4 linked regions of the Homo sapiens genome follow. The protein of the gene in region 1 interacts with the protein of each later gene in a pairwise test. Each region holds a gene or a part of one and is shown on either strand. Other genes may lie near its edges.

Region 1 (5,345 bases):
AACCCGCTTTCCTCCCTGGTTGTTCTGAGGCTTGAGCAGGACAAATGCCAACCACCTAGTCCAATGCCCCTGCCGCTGGTGGGGTCAACAGGTCCCAGGAGAGTCTGGCTCATTTCAAGCTGAGCCAAGTCCTGAAGCCCAAGCCAGGGCCTCTGGCTCACCAGCCCCCACAAAATGACTGGTTTAGCTTCCAGAAAATGCCAGCAAGTCTCCAAAGCATGCTTTAGGGAGGCTTCCACCTCTCAATGGGCCCTCCACTCTCCTCTCGCTCCCTCCAGAAGCCCACGCTAGGAGCCCGCTCCCTGCTAACCATAACACAGTCACACTGTGCAACATCCTGTCCCACATCCCAGGAGCTACAGACATGCCCACCACCTGATCTAGTGGTCGGAGATCAGGAGGGACCACTAGGGCCACTTCCCCCTAGATGCAGGACACTGGAAAGAGCTGCCCCCACACTAACAGGGAGAGGTCAGATAAAATACAAGATCCTAGTTTCACTCAACCAAGATGGGCCCTTCCACAGAGTGGCAGGAGGCAAGCACCAGCTCACTTGAGACAGGGCCCTGGAGGAAGAGAAGCCAGCCCATGCAGGTGGCGAGAGGAATTCAGGTAAAATGTTTCCATGCTGGTAAAAGCCAAGGGTGAGCCCATGTGACAGCACAGAACCTCTGAAGCCAGAGAAGCCAGAGAATCTCACACTGAGCAGAGTTCACACCCAAACACAGGCTCTTCTCCAGACCTAGGCCAGGTGCTCAGGAGAAAGAGTTGGGGGCAGCATGCTTTGGAGAGAGCCTTCCTCAGTATCATGGCTGTAGGAAAAGAAAAACATCCTACTTGTACCCTTCTCCCTTACAGAAAAAAGGCTTTAAGTCACTGAGAGAGGGGCAGCAAACCGTGTCACCTCCCAGGGCACTGGTGAAGACCCAATGTGGCTGGAGATGGGCAAAAGGAAAAACCAAGACTCTGCCCTTGGGGGAGGGGCAGGAAACTGTCCCTGGGCCCTGACTACTAGAGATTCTCAGTGCTACAGAAGGGACATGAAACTCCTGCACAAGAGTTACCATCCAGGCAGTTTGGCTGCCACTCAGAGGAGGGCAGGATCAATGAAAAAGCCCTACCCAGACCCAGCAACATGGAGCCTGCAGAAGACTGCAGCTAGACAACACAACAGAGAACCCCAAACCCTCCCTACCAAGCTACTAAACCAAAGTAACAGATAACAGCAGAGTCGATCACTGGCACAGGGGCAAGAGTGTGCAGACAAAACTCCTCCAAGGTTCAGACCTACGAGGAAGACCAAAAGGTGGAGGTGGAGCAGGAACACTGAGAAAAAACCTCTGGAAACTCAGCCCCTCCACTGAACGCAAGCTAACACTACAATAATATGAAACCAGTGGTCACTCAAGGTAATCAGATCAACACCCGAACCCAAACCAGACCAACGAGGCGGGGTTAACTCAATTCCTTATACTAATGGCCTAGCAGTTGAAAAGCCGGCCTCATTTGCAAGCATAAATATGGCTGACCTTAGTCTCTACTATCTAATATGCTGTGTTGAGCAGTCAAAAGGTACTATTCACAAAAAAGGCACACGCGCACACACACAAACAAAACTGTCAAGAGACAAAGCAATCAACAGAATTAGACTCATGGAATTTTTAAGAAGTCTGATTAACATGTTAAAGGTTCCCAAGGAAAAGATGGACAACACACATGAATAGATGGGATTATTTCAGCAGAGAAATGGAAACTCTAAGTGGAAATGCTAGAGGGAAAAAAACATAACAGAAACATTGAATGCTTCTGACAGCTCATCAGCAGACTTGACACAGCAGAAGAAAGGAGCAGTTAGCCACAGATCGGTCCACAGAGATTACCCAAACTGGAACAAAAAGAGAAAAAGAAAGAAGCCAGGTGCAGCAGTATGCCTGCAGACCCAGCTACTCAGGAGGCTGAGGAAAGAGGACTGCTTAAGCCCAGGAATTCTAGGCCAGTCTGAGCAGCACAGTGAGATCCTGTCTCAAAAAAAAAAAAAAAAAAAAAGGAAAGAAAAAAGAGGGAAGAAAACAGAAAACAGAATACAACATCCAAGAGCTGGAGGACAACATCAAACAATCTAACATATATGTAATTGGAATCTCAAAGGAAGAAAGAATGAGGTAAAAGAAACATTTTCTAAGATAATGGCTGAGAATTTTTCCAAAATAATGAAAAGCATCAAACCACAGATCCAAGAGGCTTAGAGGAATCCCAAGTAGAATAATTAACACACACATACAAAAACCCTAGACATACCATATTCAAAGTGCTGAAAATCAAAGACAAAGAGAAAACATTGAAGGCAGCCAGAGGAAAACAGGCACATTACCCAGTGGAAAAAAGAACAAGCCAACATTTCAGCAGAAGCTAAACAAGCCAAGGCCTGGCATAGCAGCTCACGCCTGTAATCTCAGCACTTTGGGAGGCCGAGGTAAGAGGATCATTTGAGCCCATGAGTCCAAGACCAGCCTAGGCAACATGGTGAGACCCTATCTCTACAAAAATACAAAAAATTAGCCAGGTGTGGTGGCGCACACCTGCAGTCCTAGCTACTTGGGAGGCTGAGGCAGGAGGATTGCTTGAGCCCAGGAGGTGGAGGCTGCAGTGAGCCATGATTGCATCACTGCACTCCAGCCTGGGCAATAGAGTAAGATCCTGTCTCAAAAAAAAAAAAAAAAAAGGAAAGAAAGAAAAAAAAAGAAAGAAAGAAAAGAAACTATGGCCAAGCACTGTGACTCACACCTGTAATCCCAGTACTTTGGGAGGCCAAGGCAAAAGAAACTATGGCCAGCCATGGTGGCTCACACCCATAATCCCAGGACTTTGGGAGGCCAAGGCAGGAGGATTATTTAAGCCCAGGAGTTCAAACCAACTACAAGTTCAACCAGGGCCAACTACTCAGGAGGCTGTGCTCCCAGCAGCCCCATCTCCTTCTTCCTCCAGAAGTCATTCTGCAGGCTTTTGCCTCCCAGCCCGGTTGAGTGATGGGGAGAAACGTGACCCCCGCAGACCCAGGACACTTGCTTTGGCAGCCCCTTCCCCAGGTCAAGCCTCCTGAGTATGTGTAACAGCCGGAAGACAAAGGGGAAGGGATGAGGGAGCAAGAGGAGAAAGATGGGGAAAGAGGAACTTCTCAGTTCTTCTGGTACAAAACCACACGTTCCATTCTTCAGGCCTCTGCATTCCCTCATAGGACGCAGGTAACTCACCACACTGCTGTGGAACACTTTGTTACCCTGTGTGGTAAAGCTCAAAGGGCTCCGCATGCTCCCTCATCTCAGAACAAACTGGTAACCCAGGAAGCGCTGGCAGGTGCTAGCTCCCACCCCCACGCCTCTCTTACCCCCTCCTGTGGGTGGTTTCTCTCCAGGATCTACACTCGGTGCTGCCACTACCCCAGCCCTTTGTCCTCCCTAGGCCCTCATTTTCACATCTATAAAAAGGAAATAATCACAAGAGCACAGGGCCGTCCTGAGAATCAAAGTGGGTGGAGGGCAAAACAGCATCTGTAATGGGTAATCCACCCAACCTGTCTCCTCCTCCATGCAGTCTCCCGAGATCCTCCTCTTCAGAACCCTCATTACCAGGCCATTTACCTGACCCTGAGAACAGCCACCCTGGCTTGTCAGTTAACTTTTCAGTGTTAGGATTCTGGCTTCCCCCATGTCACTGCAAGTGCCACAAGGTCACCATCACCTCATGCCCAGCCCTTCTGAAACCTGTCTCTCCCAGGCACAGTGACATACACACCAAGAAAACTAGGACATCCATCTAGCCTGGGACCTGCACACCATGAGTCTCCCCTCAGCTTCAGCTCCCCTCAGCTTCAACCCCTGAGTTGTCTGAAAATGTAAGACTTAAATGAATCAATCTGGTCAAATCCTCTCATTTTTAATGAGCAAACTGAGGTTCAAAGAAACCAGGTGGCTCACCCACGCCCAGGCCCAGAAGCTTCCGTCTGCATCAGTGAGAATGCGCACACACTTCAGGACTGGCCGGAACCAGGGGCAAAATAAACTCAGGGCAGTGGGTGCTCTGGCTGAGCCAGGGACCGTATTTCAAAGCCCAAGCTCCATGACTTTGGGGCTGTGCCCCCTCGGGGACGAGCACCCAATTCAAATCAACCTGTTGACAAAACCAGTGGCAGTGATTGCATCAAACCAACACACAGGGACAAAATATTTTCACAGACACAATCGGATTTAATACAACCACCGTCCCAGGACCAACTACGCTGTAAGAATGAATAGGAACAAAGTCGGTCATCAACAGAAAGGTCCTTCTCAGAAGACACAATGGGCTCCTACTGTCTGGATCACGGTTTTACCTGGCGCTGTGCAGCAGAACTTTCAGCTGTGATGGGAACACTCCATATCTGCGCCACCCAATACGGCAGCCGCTAGCCCCATGTGGCTACTGAGCACCTGAAACATGGTGATGCTACTGAGGAACAGAATTTCCACTTTTATTTCATTTTAATTCATTAGATGTAAGCAGCCGCCTGTGGGCAGAGGGTCCTACGCTGGAGAGCACAGTCCTAACCCGCCATCTAAGCTAGAATGTCGCAAGCACAAAAAGAATCCGAGCAAGCAGCACGGGGTTGTGGGAAAAAATACCGGACAGGAAGCGAAGGCAGGATCTAATTATCATTGCCTTAGCCACCAGAAAGCCCCCACCACCCCTTTGAACCCCAGTTTCTCCATCAGCAGAGGGTGGGAAGGGGCTGACAAGGGACCAGGCCCTTCCGGCTCTGACCACCTGCAAGTTCATTAGGATCTCCTACACCTGGGCACTGGAAATCCAAGGAGGCCCGTGGGTTCCCTGCCATGGCAGGTGAATGGGGCACCTGTTAGTCCTGGCTACTTGCCCCAACCCCAGCACCAACCATGTCTCCCCCATCAGACTGAGAGCTCACTAAGGACAGGCACCAGATGGGGCCCTCTCGGCTTCCCCAGCCCCTAGCAAAGCATCTGGGCACAACAGGTGTTCAGGGCTTAAAAGTCAGCATTAACCACGAGCCTTTCCAGCGTGTGTCTGGACGTGGGCTAAGCGTTCTCACCCGCCATTTTGCTCATCCTCACAGCCACACATCAGCGGGCCGAGGTGGTCTCTTCTCCCTCCGCAGAGACCACAGCTCAATGGGATTCTATGATCTGCCCAGGGTCACTCTGCTGGTAAGCCGCAAAACTGCATTCAAACCCAGGACTTCCAACTCCGAAGCCAGGTTCTTAATGTGTAAGCACTGATGCCTGCTACAAATCCATCCCCAGTAGCAGATGGAAGGAAAGGAAAAGAAAATATGA
Region 2 (5,345 bases), on another chromosome or scaffold:
GCAAAACTATCTGTGGAGAAACCCCAAGGGGTGGGGAGAGGTATTTATACATCTGAGGGAGGATTGCATTTATTCATCTGTGAGTTCCCTTTAGATTCTGGGATTTAGGATTCTGGGAACCCAGGTAAGCATCGTCATGACCACAGGGTGGGCTCATTTTGAATAAAGATGTGGGGAATTCTGTGAGGTTATAAGATAAACCCCAGCCAGTTCTTTCCCCCGACCCCCAAGAAATGGTGGTGACTTCTTAGAATCCTGAGCCACATTGGGAAACTCTGGTGGGGACTTTGTCTACATTATTGGAGGGTGGGTGGAGTGTGGGTGGGAAAGCTTGGCCTTATACAAAGACAGCCCAAAGTGGGCAATGTGGAGCTGCTTCTAGAACCCTGAACATTCTGAACTTTTGGATCCTCTAGGCTGGAGGGGTGGGGGTAGGCATTGGTGCACCTTAGCAGGGGGAGGAGCTACCTGTCCTCTCTGGAGCAGAGAGAGCCTTCACACGGAGGACACCTGGGCTCTGTTTCCCATGAGGCATGAGGCCACTGGGTGGGGGGTGTCCTGGTGTCCTCAGCCAAGGACTCCTGCCTCCTGAAGGAAACGAGAGCATAGCTCCACATTCCCTAAGTGGGGCTGTGCATCGTGACTTCCTTCCAAAGGGGACAGTGAAAAGTCGGGGGAGATAAAAGGGTAACATTCTGGAAGAGAGATATAACAAACGCTACTTCAGCCAGGCGATCAAGGTCAACATCAAGGCACAAATGTTTGTTGTTTTCTTCTTCAGGCCTAGGTTTCTCCTCTGAAATAACTTGAGCTCTTCAGAAGGTACAAAATCTCTCTGACACTAAAGTTTAGTTTAACGACTGGCTAGAGACGTGGTAATCAAGCATCTCACTGACAAGCTTCTGTTTTCTTCTTCTTTGTGCATGGCCATGTCCATGTACTGCCTGATCCTACCCCTGTTTCCTACCTGTGCTCAGGAGCGGTGACTTCTAGGTCACATCCTTTCTTGCTGACCCCACTTTGGTTCCTGACATTTTTTGTGGTCCTCCTGCAGACCATTTAAGATCAATGTTAAAGCAAACTAAATATGGCCTGAGAAGGACTCCATATTTCTATATTTGAGTCCTGTGGATGAACTGTAACCTAGCTTAATGGTCAGACAAAATTAAAAACCTAACTTAATAGTATGCACCTGTAACAATAGCTAAGGGTTGGCCAATCCCAGTGGTCATAATTCAACCACTCATAGACTCCTGAATGTTCAAACTGCGTTCAAATAAGGCAAACGCCAAGCTGTAACCAATCTCACTGTATCTGTACCTCACTTCCGATTCTTGTACATCACTCTACCTGTTTGGTCTATAAATTTGTTCTGACCACGAGGCACCCCTGGAGTCTCCGTGAATCTGCTGTGTTCCTGGGGGCTGCCCGATTCACAAATTGTTCATTGCTCAGTTAAACTCCTTTAAACTTGATTCGGCTGAAGATTTTCTTCTAGCATCAGTCATGAGGTCCCATGAGACAGCAGTGACAGAACTGGAAGATACTTTAGACAGTAATTCTTGGTGGGAAGATACCTTGAGTTGAACCCAGAGTCTTGAAACTAAAATACTAAAGATACTTTGCACTGGGGTGGTGGTGAGAGAAGTATTTCTTTTAAAAAACTCCCAACCACTACCCAAGCCTGATTCCTGCAATGTACAGCAATGAAGGCAGATGAAGCTTCCTGGCCTTAGGTTGAACATACAGCCCTTTCCACTTTGGGTTGGCTAGTGTCATGTAACTCTTTTTAGTTTCTTTATTATTATTATTATTTTTGAGATGGAGTCTCGCTCTGTCGCCCAGGCTAGAGTGCAGTGGCGCGATCTCGGCTCACTGCAACTTCCGCCTCCCGGGTTCACGCCATTCTTCTGCCTCAGCCTCCTGAGTAGTTGGGACTACAGCCGCCACCACGCCAGGCTAATTTTTTATATTTTTAGTAGAGACAGAGTTTCACCGTGTTAGCCAGGATGGTCGCGATCTCCTGACCTCATGATCCGCCCGCCTCGGCCTCCCAACGTGCTGGGATTACAGGCGTGAGCCACCGCGCCGGCCTATTATTATTTTTTAAAACAAGCATTAAAACATGCTTCAGTGCTCTTTCATATGCAAAGAAGCAACCCTGGGAGCCTGCGCCTTTTCCAGGCCCTCATGCCTTCAGAAGCCAGAGTGTGCTAGGAGCACCGGGGGTGAGGACATAGCTTCAGCCTGAAGCTGTTCACTGGAGGTATCTTCCTAGTGTGTGCAGTGGGCCTTACTCAGTTTCCCAACCCTCCATCTCAGAGAAAGACAAAACCAATTGGATATGGTGTATGTACTTGTCAAACTGTTTATTTGCCATTCACACTGATTGTAACACTGGATTTACAGAAGAAACTGTGGTACAAAGAGAGGAAGGCTCTGGTGGCTCCTGAACAGCAGCAGTCCAGCTGCCCTGCTCAGGCTGGGCACGACGAATGCTCCCAGGAGAGGGGAGGCGGCCCACCCGACTGTGTACCGTGGACTGTGGACAGTGCAGTGCCTGCTCTCCTGTGCTATCTAGAAACACCTTGGAGAGAGGGTTCTGGGATATTCTCTCATGTCATCTGGCTGAAGACACCAGCTTGACAGTTCCCCTTTAAGAAGCATTCCATACGTTTGTACCAGGGAGAAAGAAGCCCACGCACGAATTTTCAGGATGTTTTGTGACCAAACCCAATAACTGCCACACAAATAGACCCTAGGTGGGGGCTGGCTTAAATAGGACCACATTTCCCGTTGCTTTTTCAGTAGATGTGTTATACCGTCATTTCAATTTGAAAGTTTATTTTTTTCCATTGATTTTTATACATCCAGAATAACACAAATAACCAACAGTTCTTTTTCTTTTTTTGCACATTCATTTCCCCTAGAACAAAAAAAGTGAACTTAAAAAAAATTGGAACCATGCTATTAGCTGTTTACAAAAGTGAATAAGAAGTAGCTCATTTTAAAGTCTAAAATAAACAAAGTAGAAAGAAGCATTTTTTTCCCTACAGTATTTAGCAAACCTAAGAAAAAGTCCTTAGAAACACACACAAAAAAATTGAAAAAAAGTTATAGGCATTAACAATATTTTATAATGAAGCTTAAAATCTATTTACATACATAAATACAATTAACTTTGTTGATGCAACTCTTCTGGAAGGAAAAAAAGAGCCAAATGATCAGCCTCATCAATACTGACCTGGCTAAAAACAAAATTCCCAACAAACACACAAAAATCCCAAAACAAATGTATACGCTACGGTAAACAAAAAGGCATTTTGTTCAGATGTAAAATATGTTTTGTGAGATTATTGTCAAACAAATTTTCATGTATAAAAGACCCAAACATGTCATTCCCCCCAAAAATAAAAACCAACAAAAATAAAAATCATCAGGACGGAATGTCCCAAAGAAACAGGTATTTCAAGGCAGAAATCTGCAATCCTAAATTGCAGGACATTTGAGTGGAACCATTCATTTCCTTTCTAATCAGAGCATTTCTGTTTATCTGCACAGAAACCCAAGGCAGCAGAAAGGCTGTCTATTTACTCACTGATTGTGATTTGCCCAGGAAAGTTTGCTGGTTTGGACAGCAAGCAGATCCAATATGGTTGGCAATGTCTCTGTTCTGCTGGAAGAAACCCATAAACAGGAGAAAGGCTGACAAACCATGTTCCTTTATGTGAAGGGGGAAGAACTGGACCTTCTTGTGTTCTGAAATTTGGTACTGGGTGGGGGTATGTGCTATCTGCTTAAGAGAACACAGGAAAAGGAGGAGGGAGAAAGTGGGGTTTGGAAGATAGAGGAAGAGAGAAAAAAAGGGAGATATTGGGGGGAAGAGAGGGAGGGAAATGTATTTTCAGATAGTGAGAAAAAGAAAGAACTGAAATATGTATCCATGTTGAAATCATAAATAGGGACATGAGTAAGCAGTAGAAATGGCTTATTCAATACTTCTCCTGGACCAGACACATGCAGTTATTACATGATTGGCTTAAGGGTCTCATTGATACCTTAACTTTCCTGAGGGCAATGAATAAAAAGATACCTTAATCTACCTGAAGTCAATGAATGCAATTTTTCACACACACACACACACACGCACACACACACACATACAAAAATGTGTTGCGTGAGACCTATCGCCAAAACAACTACAGTTTGATTTTTTTTGAAACAATTAAATACTATATATGCTGGTAAGAGTCTGTGAAACTCTAAATGACCAATCCAGTGAGCCTACAATAGTGACAAGCCCCCTCCACACATGGCTTTGAGAGTAAAGGTTCAATGTAAAAGATTATCTAATCAGAGCATGAGGCTGGTTTTGAGTTGGAATATCTTCAGTTAACAGAATTAAACTGAAAAACATAATTTTTTCCTTCATTTTTCTCCAGCATTTTTGCAGGTCAGACATGGTAACATGTGCTGAAAAAAAACATTTACGTTTAATTTGGGGGAAATGGGCTAATGGTGCTTTTCAGAAATTAAATTTTTACATTTGCTGACATTTTATGGTAATTTAGCTGCAAAAATGTAATACGGAATAATATATGAAACTGAGTTGTGGAGGGAATCCTGTCAAAAATGAAAGTGAATATATTCTGAGTTTGTCCGAGATCTGCTATAGCTCTTCTCTAGATAAGAACGACCTGACAACATAAGCTGCTTTACTCTTTAACTCTTACCAAAGTGCTACTGCATGTGTGTAAAACAAATAATCAATATATATATAAGAAAACTCAAAAACAAGTTGTTTTAAATAAGTCCAGCTGTTTTTGCTGCCTGCAGCCAAAGATTTGCCTAATTTGAATGCTTAAATTTATAAAATAAAAATCAAACACTGTTCTGAAGTCCTGCTTTCAAATACTCTTCAGAGTTGACCTGAAATCGTTTCAACGAATTTTAAGAGGTACGTTAAATAACCACCAGATCATTTGGAGCACACATGTGTCAAAATCAGCAGTTAGTATTTATGAGTTGTACAACAACTGCATTCTGACCAAATCCTCCAATAAAAATAGTGCCATAAAATTTACAGCGACATTGGATACCTTTGAATTGTAGCCACGGACAGTAGTGACATGAATCTTTCCTGTCACACTGGTGCACAGGTAAAAGCCCATATACCCCATAGGGTAGGGTCTCAGCCTGGTGAAAGCAACACAAAGATGTTGTTGAGTGAGCAGCACAGGACAGGGGGTCTCGCACAGGTGGGACCATGTTTTCCCACTTGTCTCCACTGAGGCACACAGAGGCAAATTGACTCCTCGAGGCCTGCTTCTGGTGGGCCCTTAAAT
Region 3 (5,345 bases), on another chromosome or scaffold:
AAACCCATACACTGCCCAGGACCCCTGGCCCCCTGAGGCCCACCATGCATGCCGGTGCTGCACCGCACAGGTATAGATCTTTCCTTCGGGTGCTGTGTACACAGAACCCCTCGAATCGAAAGTTACCCCCTCCAATAAGCCCTCCTACACCCTGAAAGATATGAGTCATCTCACGCCCAAGCCTCTCCCCCTCATACTCAGGTCCCGTTCACCGGCCCAGATTCCTCAACCCACACAAATCACACACACCCACAGTCGGAATTCAGATCCCCCCAGGCGCCTGCGCACACACACGCGCACAAAACACCTGCCACCCGGAGACATTTTCCACCCCGTCCCCCAGAACGCAGCCACTGCGCCCTTGCGGCCTTGCTTGCTCTCCACTGGCCAAGGACTCTGAATCTCCACCAGGCCTGTAAACGGGGAGCTCAGATGACAGAGGCAGTGGTGTGCTTCGTTTCCATTTTAAACACACGTTTATGCTGTTAGTGCCCTTTTAGGGAGAAAAATCCCTCATCTCAACAAAATAAACTACCATGGGGCGTATGCTTTGTGCTTGGCTATGACTATGACTATGCAACAAGTAATTTCTTTTTCAAATGAGTGCCCAGGTTAGAAGGAATCAGGTTCATTGGTGCGGAGATTATGCCAACAGAAACTCATTTCAGAAACAAGAAGCAAGCCCTGAGCAGTTGGAGACGAAAGCGTTTTCTCCGAGATTCTCTTTCCGCTACTTCGGGGGGCGGGTGGTGAAAGGCTCCGTAAGGTGAAAAGAGAAAGGAAGAAGCAAACAGCTATTTTTTTGTTGCCAGTTATAGCTGAGAAACAAATGTGGCTGAAGGGCACCCCTACCCACGTTGGCCGTGAGGCCGTTTGATGGGCTTTGTGTGAGGAATCCTGAGATGAGCTGGCCGGGGAGTGAGGACCGGCACCCGCCTACAGCAGCGATCTGGAGTAGTGAGTGAGCAGCCCCAGCTGACACAGAGAAGGAGAGAGAGAACTCTGACCCCTTCTCTTCTGAGGACACCCAGCCGGAGAGAGCAAGAAGGGGTGGAGTGTGGGGGTGGGGGCAGGAGCCTCTGCTGTTCCTTTCCAAGACTTTTTCTTCCTGTTTTCCCCAAGCCTCCACAACTCTAAATATGACGAGCTCTCAACTGTGAGCTAATAATGTTGAATGTAACGCCCTTTGTGTCCTTAGATGACAAAAAGACTTGTGAGTACTAGAGGAGAGGGTGATGTTGGTGTGAATTTTCCACATTGGTCCGTGTCTCCGTGGACTGGCCGCTTCCCCCGCTGGTAGCTTCATGGCTGTGAGAGGCCATGCGGTGGATGGAGCCACCGCTGCACTGGGGTCCTGGCTCGAACTTGAGTAAGGTGCTGTCTTCCAAGTCTGGAGAGGAGAGGAGGAGAGAAGAGAGGCAGTCCCTTCAGCACCTTGGAGAGCGCTCCCGGCTGCCTGCCTGGGTTGGGTGGACGGCTGGACTCACTTTCGCTCTAGGCATCCTCTTCAAGCCAAACCATCTCTCCTTGCCAGTGACCGCCTGGTCCCGGACCCTCCAGCACACTCAACCACCAGAAGTGTGCCTATGCCTGTGCCAGATGTGGGGGCCACGCCTGCGATCCCAACACTTTGGGAGGCCGAGATGGGAGGTTCACTTGAGCCCAGGAGTTTGAGACCAGCCTGGGCAACATTGTGAGACCCCCGTCTCTACAAAAAATACAAAAATTAGCCAGGTGTGGTGCTGCACGCCTGTGGTCCCACCACTCAGGAGGCTGAGGTGAGAGGATCGCTTGAGCCCCGGAGGTCAAGGCTGCAGTGAGCCAAGATGGTGCCACTGCACTCCAGCCTGCTGACAGAGCCAGACCCCATCTCAAAAGAAAAAGAAGAAGTGTGCCTGGTCCTACTCAGTCGGTGCATGGATTCCATGCTCCAGGAAGGGCTGCCACTTGGCATGCCTGCCTATGTTTTCACCCCTACCCTGTCAGTCCTTCCTGAAGAAGTGAGTGTCTTCTGAGGTAACATCCTCTGCTGGTCAACTGGGAGAGCAGCTCCCAGCTTGTGGAGGTGGGTTTGGGGGTGAGACTTTATTTTTTTGTTTTTATTTATTTATTTATCTGTTTTGAGATGGAGTCTCACCCTGTAGCCCAAGGTGGAGTGCAGTGGAGTGATCTTGGCTCATTGCAACCTCTGCCTCCTGGGCTCAAGTCATTCTCATGCCTCAGCCTCCCGAGTAGCTGGGATTACAGGCATACACCACCACACCTGGCTAATGTTTTGGGTTTTAGTAGAGACAGTGTTTTGCCATGTTGGCCAGGCTGGTCTTGAACTGAACTCAGGCGATCTGCGTGCCTCGGCCTCCCAAAGTGTTGGGATTACAGGTGTGAGCCACTGTGCCCGGCCTAGGGTGAGACTTTAGTAAGATGTATAGAAGTTGCTCTGAAGTCTAAGGTGTATTCCTGCCATAGGATATGTGTGTTCACTTCTCTTGGAGCATAACAGGGGTCATAGGTGCACAGCCGAAGGCAGGCAGAGGAATGATTTGTCTGTACCAGTCAGTGAAACTGTTTCACCACCATTCTCTTTACATCTGCCTCAATGGGTGAGTCCTCTAGACCAATGGTCCCCAACCTTTTTGGCACCAGGGACCTGTTTCATGGAAGACAATTTTTCTACCGCCCAGGGTTGAGGGATGGTTTTGGGATGATTCAGGCGCATTCTATTTATTGTGTGCTTTATTTCTATTATTATTACATTGTAATATATAGTGAAGTAATAATACAACTCACCATCATGTAGAATCAGTGGGAGCCCTGAGTTTGTTTTCCTACAACTAGACGGTCTCATCTGGGGGTGATGGGAGATAGTGACAGATCATCGGACATTAGATTATCATAAGGAGTGTGCAAACTAGGTCCCTGGCATGAGCAGTTTCCAGTAGGCTCTGCATTCCTATGAGAATCTAATGCTGCTGCTGATCTCACAGGAGGCAGAGCTCAGGCAGTAATGCAAGCGTTGGAGAGCGGCTGTAAATACAGACGAAGCTTCACTTGCTTGCTTACTCACTCGCCACTCACCTCCTGCTGTGTGGCTGGGTTCCTAACAGGCAACGAACCAGTACCAGCCACATTTCACGGGCTCAACAGCCACCTGGGACTAGTCGCCACCATATTGGACAATGTAAATCCAGAACATTCCATCAGTGCAGAAAGCTTTATTGGGCAGGCAGCACTGGTCTGGAGTGTAAGTTCCATATGGGAAGCGGTTTGTGTCCATGCTGGTCACTGCCATGTGCCCAGTGACTAAAATGGTGCTGGCACGTGGTGGTCAATAAATATTTGTGGAATGAATGACCTGTGCAAGTAAATGCGGTAGTATTTGGTAATTTTGTTTACCGTCATTATTTCGTATGCCTGTTTCATTGCAAGACCTTAGAATTGGACGTAGTTAAAGGAAAGTTTTTCCGTGAGACCCTCATGTCCACAGGTCAGTCTCCCTTTACAATTAGCATTAAAACATGCCTGTTCTAATTCCTTGATCAGTTTTGTTTTGTGGTTGGCTTTGTCATTGCTCCTTAAGAGACTGCCAGTGTTTCATATGAGAAAGATGATGGTGTTGAATGCAGTGAATAATGGAGCGATACCAGCAGTCATGACTGGGAGGCATTTTTGGACCACGATTTAATGAGTAGCATTCATTGCAAAGTGCAAAGAAAGGCCCATGGAAAGATGAGTACCCTCCAGTCTGCTTAATTCCTCACTATCTTTTTACTGCTCCCTTTTCCTTGGCTTGATTCGTTCAGTCATTGGAGAAGCATTTGCCAAGTTCAGACCGTGTTCAAGGCACAAAGACAGAAAAGCTCAGGTCCAACCTCAGTGAATCAGCCTTAAGTATTTGCTGAGCATTGAGTATGTACGCAGTACAGAGTTTGTGGTAACGTGGAAGATTGGAAAAAAAGAAACAAACACATAAAAATGAAAATGCAAGAAATAGGATGTCCTATGTTCTACCAGGAAGAATAAGGAGTCTGAACAGGGATGCAAAACCGAGATATATGGAATAATTCAGGGTTTCTCATGCCACAGTGGGGGTCCTGAATGGGAGCACCACAGGGCAGGGACCTGAGGAGGGGCAGGGCAGGTGTGTGTGTCCCTGAAGGAGCGGCAGAGGCTTCTGGGGGTAGGCAGTGCCTGAGTTGAGTCTGGAAGGGCAGTAGGGTGAGAGTTGTTATCCCAAGCCTGAGGCTGCAGATTTGTTCGAGGCCATGTCTCCCTCAGCCTCAGCTTCCCCATCTCTATGATTTAGTCATGACATTTTTTTCCTTCTCAACATGTGCCATCTCCCTCCTACCTATGAATGTCACGGGTATTGTTCTGGACCCAGGGAAGGCTCGCTGGTGCAAATGCTTTCCAAAAACACCGAGAGTCGCTCTCTCTGCTGCTGGTGGAGTCTGAGTTGGGCAGGACATGGGCCCGCCTCTGTCTGCTGCTCTATGCCAGTGCTTCCCAAGCCTGAGTGTTACAAGAACCACCTGGAAGGTGTGTCAAGACACAGATTTCCAGCCCCACCCCTGAGTCTCTGGGCCTGGGATGCCACCCAAGAATTTATATTTCTTACAAATTTCAGGCGATGCTGAGGCTGCTGATCTGGGGACCTCACATTAAGAACCACAGTCCTGGGCTTGTGCCTCCTAAGCCTGGCTACACATTCGAGTCACTAAGAATGTCCCTGGGAGACGGTTAGAAATGCAGCGTGTCAGGCCTGCCTGACCTCCAGGGTCAGGATGTGTGTTTGGAGATGCTCAGGTGGCTGCAGTGCAGGAGATCCTGCTTTGGTGCACTCACTTTAACCCTAGCTGTGCATGAGCTTCATCTAGGTTGCTTTAGAAAATGCAGATGCCCGGGCCCCACCCACAGGTGCTGATTGAGGTCCTCTGGGTACAGCCTGGGCATTGGGATTCTTTTTATTTTAATTTTTTTCAGACGGGGGCTGGCTCCGTCTGTCGTCCTGGCGTGCAATAGTGTGTGATCGTGGCTCACTGCAACCTCTGCCTCCTGGCCTCAAGCCATCTTCCCACCTCAGCCTCCTGAGTAGCTGGGACTGCAGGCATGCACCCCCATGCCCAGCTAAGTTTTGTTATTTGTTGTAGAGATGGGGTTTTGTCGTGTTTCCCAGACTGGTCTCAAACTCCTGAGCTCAAGCGATCCGCCCACCTTGGCCTCCTGAAGTGCTTTTACAGGTGTGAGCAACTTTTTTACAGGATTACAGGTGTGAGCAACTGCACCTGGCCTGAGATTATTTTTTAAACATTCCAGGTGATTCTAACGTTCAGCGCAGGTTGAGGACC
Region 4 (5,345 bases), on another chromosome or scaffold:
CTAAAAATACAAAAATTAGCCGGATACAGTGGCGGGCACCTGTAGTTCCAACTACTTGGGTAGCTGAGGCAGGAAAACTGCTTGAACCTGGAAGGTGGAGGTTGCAGTGAGCCGAGATTAAGCCACTGCATTCCAGCCTGGGCGACCAAGTGAGACTCCGTCTCAAAAAAAAAAAAAAAAAAAAAAAAAAAGGAAATAATTTGTTGTTATTGTTTTGACACTCCTTCTTCACCCCACAATAGCAACCAAAACTAAAGGTGAATAACAGCAATTCCATGAGCAAATCATTCTGAAGCTTCCTCCAGCAATTCAAGGCTCACCCTGGAGGGAATGATACTGCAGAGGTCTGGGCCAAGCTGGCTATTACACAATTCTAGGTTCTATGGCTTTCACCCATCACCATTTCCTAGAATCACTAACTAAGAATTGCTAAAGAGTGTTGTTTTGCCAGAAAGAGGCCTGCATGCAAAGAATCAAATGTCAAGATACATCTTGAGGTTCACCTGCTGAAATTCACACTTCAACCACTTGCCCATTCTGTTCCCTTACACCCTCATCTTTCATCTTGGTGCTTTCCTTGTCATTCTCAAGCTATAATTCAAAAATAGTCACTGGCTCCTAGGGCACTTTCAAAATTAGCTCATTCACAGTTCCTAGGACCTTGGGTGACTCTATATTCCTGGAAAGCCCAGGGGCCCCATCAGCTGACCCACAAACTCCACATGTTGGCCTGGCCTCCATGACTCAACTCAATCCCAAGGGCAGGCCTCCCTGCATCTCAGGCCCAGATTCCCAGACTTACCAATTTCATGGACCATTCAGCGGCTAGATAAAAATATTCCTATCAAATCATAAAAGAATCTTACCCAAAAATGAGAAAGGCATAGTATCAGAGAAAAGGACATATCTTCTTATTTGAACAATTATGACATATTCACTACATCATTATCATCATTGTGATAAGAACAGTGAAAACCACTAACCAACAATAAATGACCTGTGGGGCTAACATTATGCTCTGCATATAGGAGATACTCATTTACTTTTATATTGTGTGGAAACTGAGCTCTGACTTACACGACAGGGACACATCCCATACCTCCAGTAATGCCAGGCCTTCCTTCTTCAACAATGGCATTTCCCTTTACCCTCTGGAATTCCGCAAAGTCTCTCCAATCTATCTCACCCTCTTAAACACACGTTTTTCCTTCTACCTCGATTCCAATATTCTGCATTCTTTTTTTTGAGACAGAGTCTCGCCCTTTCACCCAGGCTGGAGTGCAGTGGCGCGGTCTCAGCTCACAGCAACCTCCACCTCCTGGGTTCAAGCGATTCTCCTGCCTCAGCCTCCTGAGTAGCTGAAATTACAGGCGTGTGCCACCATGCCCGGCTAATTTTTGTATTTTTAGCAGAGACGGGGTTTCACCATGTTGGCCAGGCTGGTCTCAAACTCCCGACCTCAAGTGAGCCACCTGCCTTGGCCTCCGAAAGTGCTAGGATTACAGGCATGAGCCACTGCTCCCGGTTTCTGCATTCTTTTTCATCAACTTAAAAAAAACGACACTCTTCCTCCCACTCTAAGCATTCCTGAAGCATACTTGCCAATGAGTTACACTTCGGGAACTTCAGTTATTACCTAGCAAACAAAGTTTGCAAGATTTCCACAAGAGGAAAAGAGAGGGTAGAACTGGTAAACTTTGTTTATAACCACTGTCAAGTCATTAACCAACAACAAAGAAAAGCTTTAATCCATCCTTTTCTATACCATTCATTTCTTTCCATGTTCTCTTCTCGTATTTGTCCATGTGAATCTGTACATTTTATATATCAATAAATTATATATTGGGATTTTTCTCTGATTATAAAATAAATATACGTCCATTACAGAAAACAAGATAAGATTCAAACACCATGGAAATAAATTATATAGAAAGGGAATATCTCCTGTAACTCTACACACAAAGAGCTCTAATACCTTTAAACTGATCAAGCTTCTTACTTCCTGCCCAGTTGTGTGACTTGACCTTCCACCCTCTATGCCCTTCCTCTCTCCCAGCTCTCATCTAATGTCTGGAGTTAATGACCCACTCCTAACAGGGGTCCAGGAACCCTGGAGCCTGGTTATTAGAGGAACTAGAGTCACTCTCCCTTTATTAAAAATTATTTCAATGGGATAACAACTCCTCACTGACTCACTTAAAGGTTAATGAGGCTGAGTTTTGTGAGCCTCTTGAAAGCAAAATGCACTAAAAACACCAAATGGGATTGGTTTCCTTTGCTCTCTGCCCCATCGCAGCTTGCCAAGAAAAAAGAAAAAAAAGCTCATGATCCTGCTAATGACACTGAGTAGACACATTTCACCAGCCACCACTCCTGCTACTGCAGCAGCCAATCACAGGCATCTGTCCAACACAGTGACAGGGCTAACGTCAAATGAGAGTGAAAGTCGTATTCCAGAGACCAAGGGCTGCATTTCTCATCGAGGCGAGGAGACAAAGGCTGGGACACAGGAAAGGCTTGCCAAAATTTCACAAGGGTGGGCCTGGGAAGCAAAGCACAGGACCCCCTCCCCTGCAGCCTAGGTAGAGGTTTCTTTCTCAGACTATCTGTGTGCTCAAGAGCAGAAAGTCTCCCCGCAGAAAATGCTATGAAGTAGTTTCAAATGTCGAATACACTTTACCCAAATCTAATCATTACCTTATCTGCTAACTAGACTGGCAGGGCCATAAAGTTAATTTTATGACAACCATTTTATAACAAATGAAAACTATAAGGGAAGTAGGAATTGGGCAAAAAAAGAAGGGCATTGGACAAAGCAGTGACAAACCAGACAGGGAAACACAAAATCACCTCCAAATAATGCTCTAAACCAGTGGTCTCCAGACAGCGTTCATGGAAGACAATTTTTCCACGGATGGGGTTGGGGATTGGGATGAAACTGTTCCAACTCAGATCAACAAGCAGTAGATTCTCATAGGGAGTGCACAACCAAGATCCCACACATGTGCAGTTCACAACAGGGTTCACAGTCCTGTGAGAATCAAATGCCACCACTGATCTGACAGAGGTGGAGCTCAGGTGGTAAAGGTCACTTGCCCGCCGCTCACCTCCTGCTCTATGGCCCGGTTCCTAATAGGCCACTGACCAGTTCAGGTCCGAAGCAGGGGGCTGGGGACCCCTGCTCTTAAACGAAGACCTCTCTCCTCGAATGGCTGCATCACAGATCTCTAGACTGGGACAAGAAGGACCCGATAGACAACCAGAGGGTGACTGCAGCTCTCTCATTTTACAGATGGGAAAACAGGCCCAGAGACATAACTGACTTTTTCCAGGTAACACAGTGAATTGAAGTAAGGGACAAGCCAGCCCCAAAGGCAAGTCTTTGGGGTCCCTGGTTAGTAGTCTTTCCTCCAAATCCCCCCAGACCCTTTATTATGGAGAGTCTGTTACTCTGCCTCTGACAAACCATTTCGGCTGAGAGAAATGCCGTCAACACATATCAGCATGCAGAATATGCACTAATAACACATTAAAATCAAAATGGCTAATCTGGGTTTATCTTCTGACATCTAATTTCATTTGTTGGTAGTGCAACATTATTGAAAATAAATGAACACAAAACAGTTTTAAAATCTGGATAGAACCTTCTTGAAAACATTCAAATCATTCTGAAGATATGCAGTTCCAATCAAATTTAATTCTAAATAACAAATCAAAGATGCTTTAAAAGAGAATGCTTACTGAATAATAATGGAATCAATTAAAGATATTTTCATATAAGATAAAAGTTTAAAGCTCTATTGCTGTGAAATCACGAGCATCTACCTTTTCAGAGGGGTTTTCTTAGACAGCTGACATTTATGCATAGATGCTTACAGCATAAGATGATATATACAAAACCTTAATAGGATAATAGGACACATAAAAAGCACTGAACAGACCAGGCGTGATGGCTCACGCCTGTAATCCCAGCACTTTGGGAGACCGAGACTGGTGGACCTCCTGAGGTCAGGACTTGGAGACCAGCCTGGCCAACATGGTGAAACCCCATTTCTACTAAAATTACAAAAATTAGCCAGGCGTGGTGGCGGGCACCTGGAATCCCAGCTACTCAGGAGGCTGAGGCAGGAGAATTACTTGAACCTGGGAGGTGGAGGTTACAGTGAGCCAAGATCGCGCCACTACACTCCAGCCTGGGTGACAGACTGAAACTCTGTCTCAAAAATAATAATAATAATAATAATACTAGGCACTGAACAAATGCTGGTTTCCTAACCCCATGTAGGAAAATAAGTATTCCCCCCATAACCAGTAATAACTTATTACAATATTTTCCTAAAAGTCTGTCCCACCTGCTCCCCTCCCCCGCCCCCGGAAAACTTAAGGTGTTATATCACAAGGGTATTGTCCAGTTTTGTTTTGTTATTTATTTACTTATTTATTTATTTTATTTATGTATTTATTTTGAGACGGAGTCTCACCCTTTTGCCCAGGCTGGAGTGCAGTGGCGCGATCTTGGCTCACTGTAACCTCCACCTCCCAGGTTCAAGTGATTCTCCTGCCTCAGCTTTCCCAGTAGCTGGGATTACAGGCGGGAGCCACCACACCCGGCTAATTTTTGTATTTTTTTAGAGACGGGGGTTTTACCTCTTGGCCAGGCTGGTCTCAAACTCCTGACCTCAAGTGATCTGCCCGCCTCAGCTTCCCAAAGTGCTGTGATTATAGGTGTTAGCCACCGTACCCGGCCAGGTATTGTCTATTTTTAAAATGAAATTGAAAAAGGTACAGAGACACGACATACCATTTTTCTTATTTTTTCCTTCAACTTTTAAGTTCCAGGTACGTGTGCAGGATGTGCAGATTTGTTACACAGGTAAACATGTGCTATGGTGGTTTGATGCACAGATCAACCCATCACCTAGGTATTAAGCCCAGTATCTATTAGCTATTCTTCCTGATGCTCTCCCTTCCATTTTTCTTAAAAGATAAATTTAGATATCCAGTACTCAGGATAGTCCACACACATCATTATTCTAATATTATGACAAGGCTTTCAGTATTCATTCCTGTGGTAACAGAAAAATAAAAGAATTCAATGTTCATATGCTGTTTTTCTGGTGGCAGGAAAAGAAAACAGTCATCAAAAGGTTGAAACATGACAAAAAGTACCAGTTTAAAAATATTTTATGTTTGTACATGTGGATTCTTACAATATATGCAATAGTTTTTTCCCAAGTAATTTTGGAGTCAGTATTCACATTACTCCAGCTAAGTGTAAACACCAGTATTTTGCACTTTAGCTCATCAAGCTTTCTTTTTTTCAGAAACAGGATCTCACTCTGTTG

What was found.
Region 2: the proteins of SULT4A1 (region 1) and RUNX1 interact in a two-hybrid assay, tested with the Homo sapiens proteins (one large-scale study listed by BioGRID and IntAct).
Region 3: the proteins of SULT4A1 (region 1) and JPH3 interact in binary tests that used the Homo sapiens proteins (3 or more experiments, as listed by UniProt).
Region 4: the proteins of SULT4A1 (region 1) and APBB2 interact in binary tests that used the Homo sapiens proteins (3 or more experiments, as listed by UniProt).

The regions. Positions count from the first base shown.
Region 1 is NC_000022.11:43,855,346-43,860,690, forward strand, and holds part of SULT4A1 (sulfotransferase 4A1), read right to left. Parts: intron 1-5,345. UniProt on the Homo sapiens protein: Atypical sulfotransferase family member with very low affinity for 3'-phospho-5'-adenylyl sulfate (PAPS) and very low catalytic activity towards L-triiodothyronine, thyroxine, estrone, p-nitrophenol, 2-naphthylamine, and 2-beta-naphthol.
Region 2 is NC_000021.9:34,785,458-34,790,802, forward strand, and holds the end of RUNX1 (runt-related transcription factor 1), read right to left. Parts: 3' UTR 2,344-5,345; downstream 1-2,343.
Region 3 is NC_000016.10:87,607,163-87,612,507, forward strand, and holds part of JPH3 (junctophilin-3), read left to right. Parts: intron 1-5,345. UniProt on the Homo sapiens protein: Junctophilins contribute to the formation of junctional membrane complexes (JMCs) which link the plasma membrane with the endoplasmic or sarcoplasmic reticulum in excitable cells.
Region 4 is NC_000004.12:41,207,035-41,212,379, forward strand, and holds part of APBB2 (amyloid beta precursor protein binding family B member 2), read right to left. Parts: intron 1-5,345. UniProt on the Homo sapiens protein: Plays a role in the maintenance of lens transparency, and may also play a role in muscle cell strength. Involved in hippocampal neurite branching and neuromuscular junction formation, as a result plays a role in spatial memory functioning.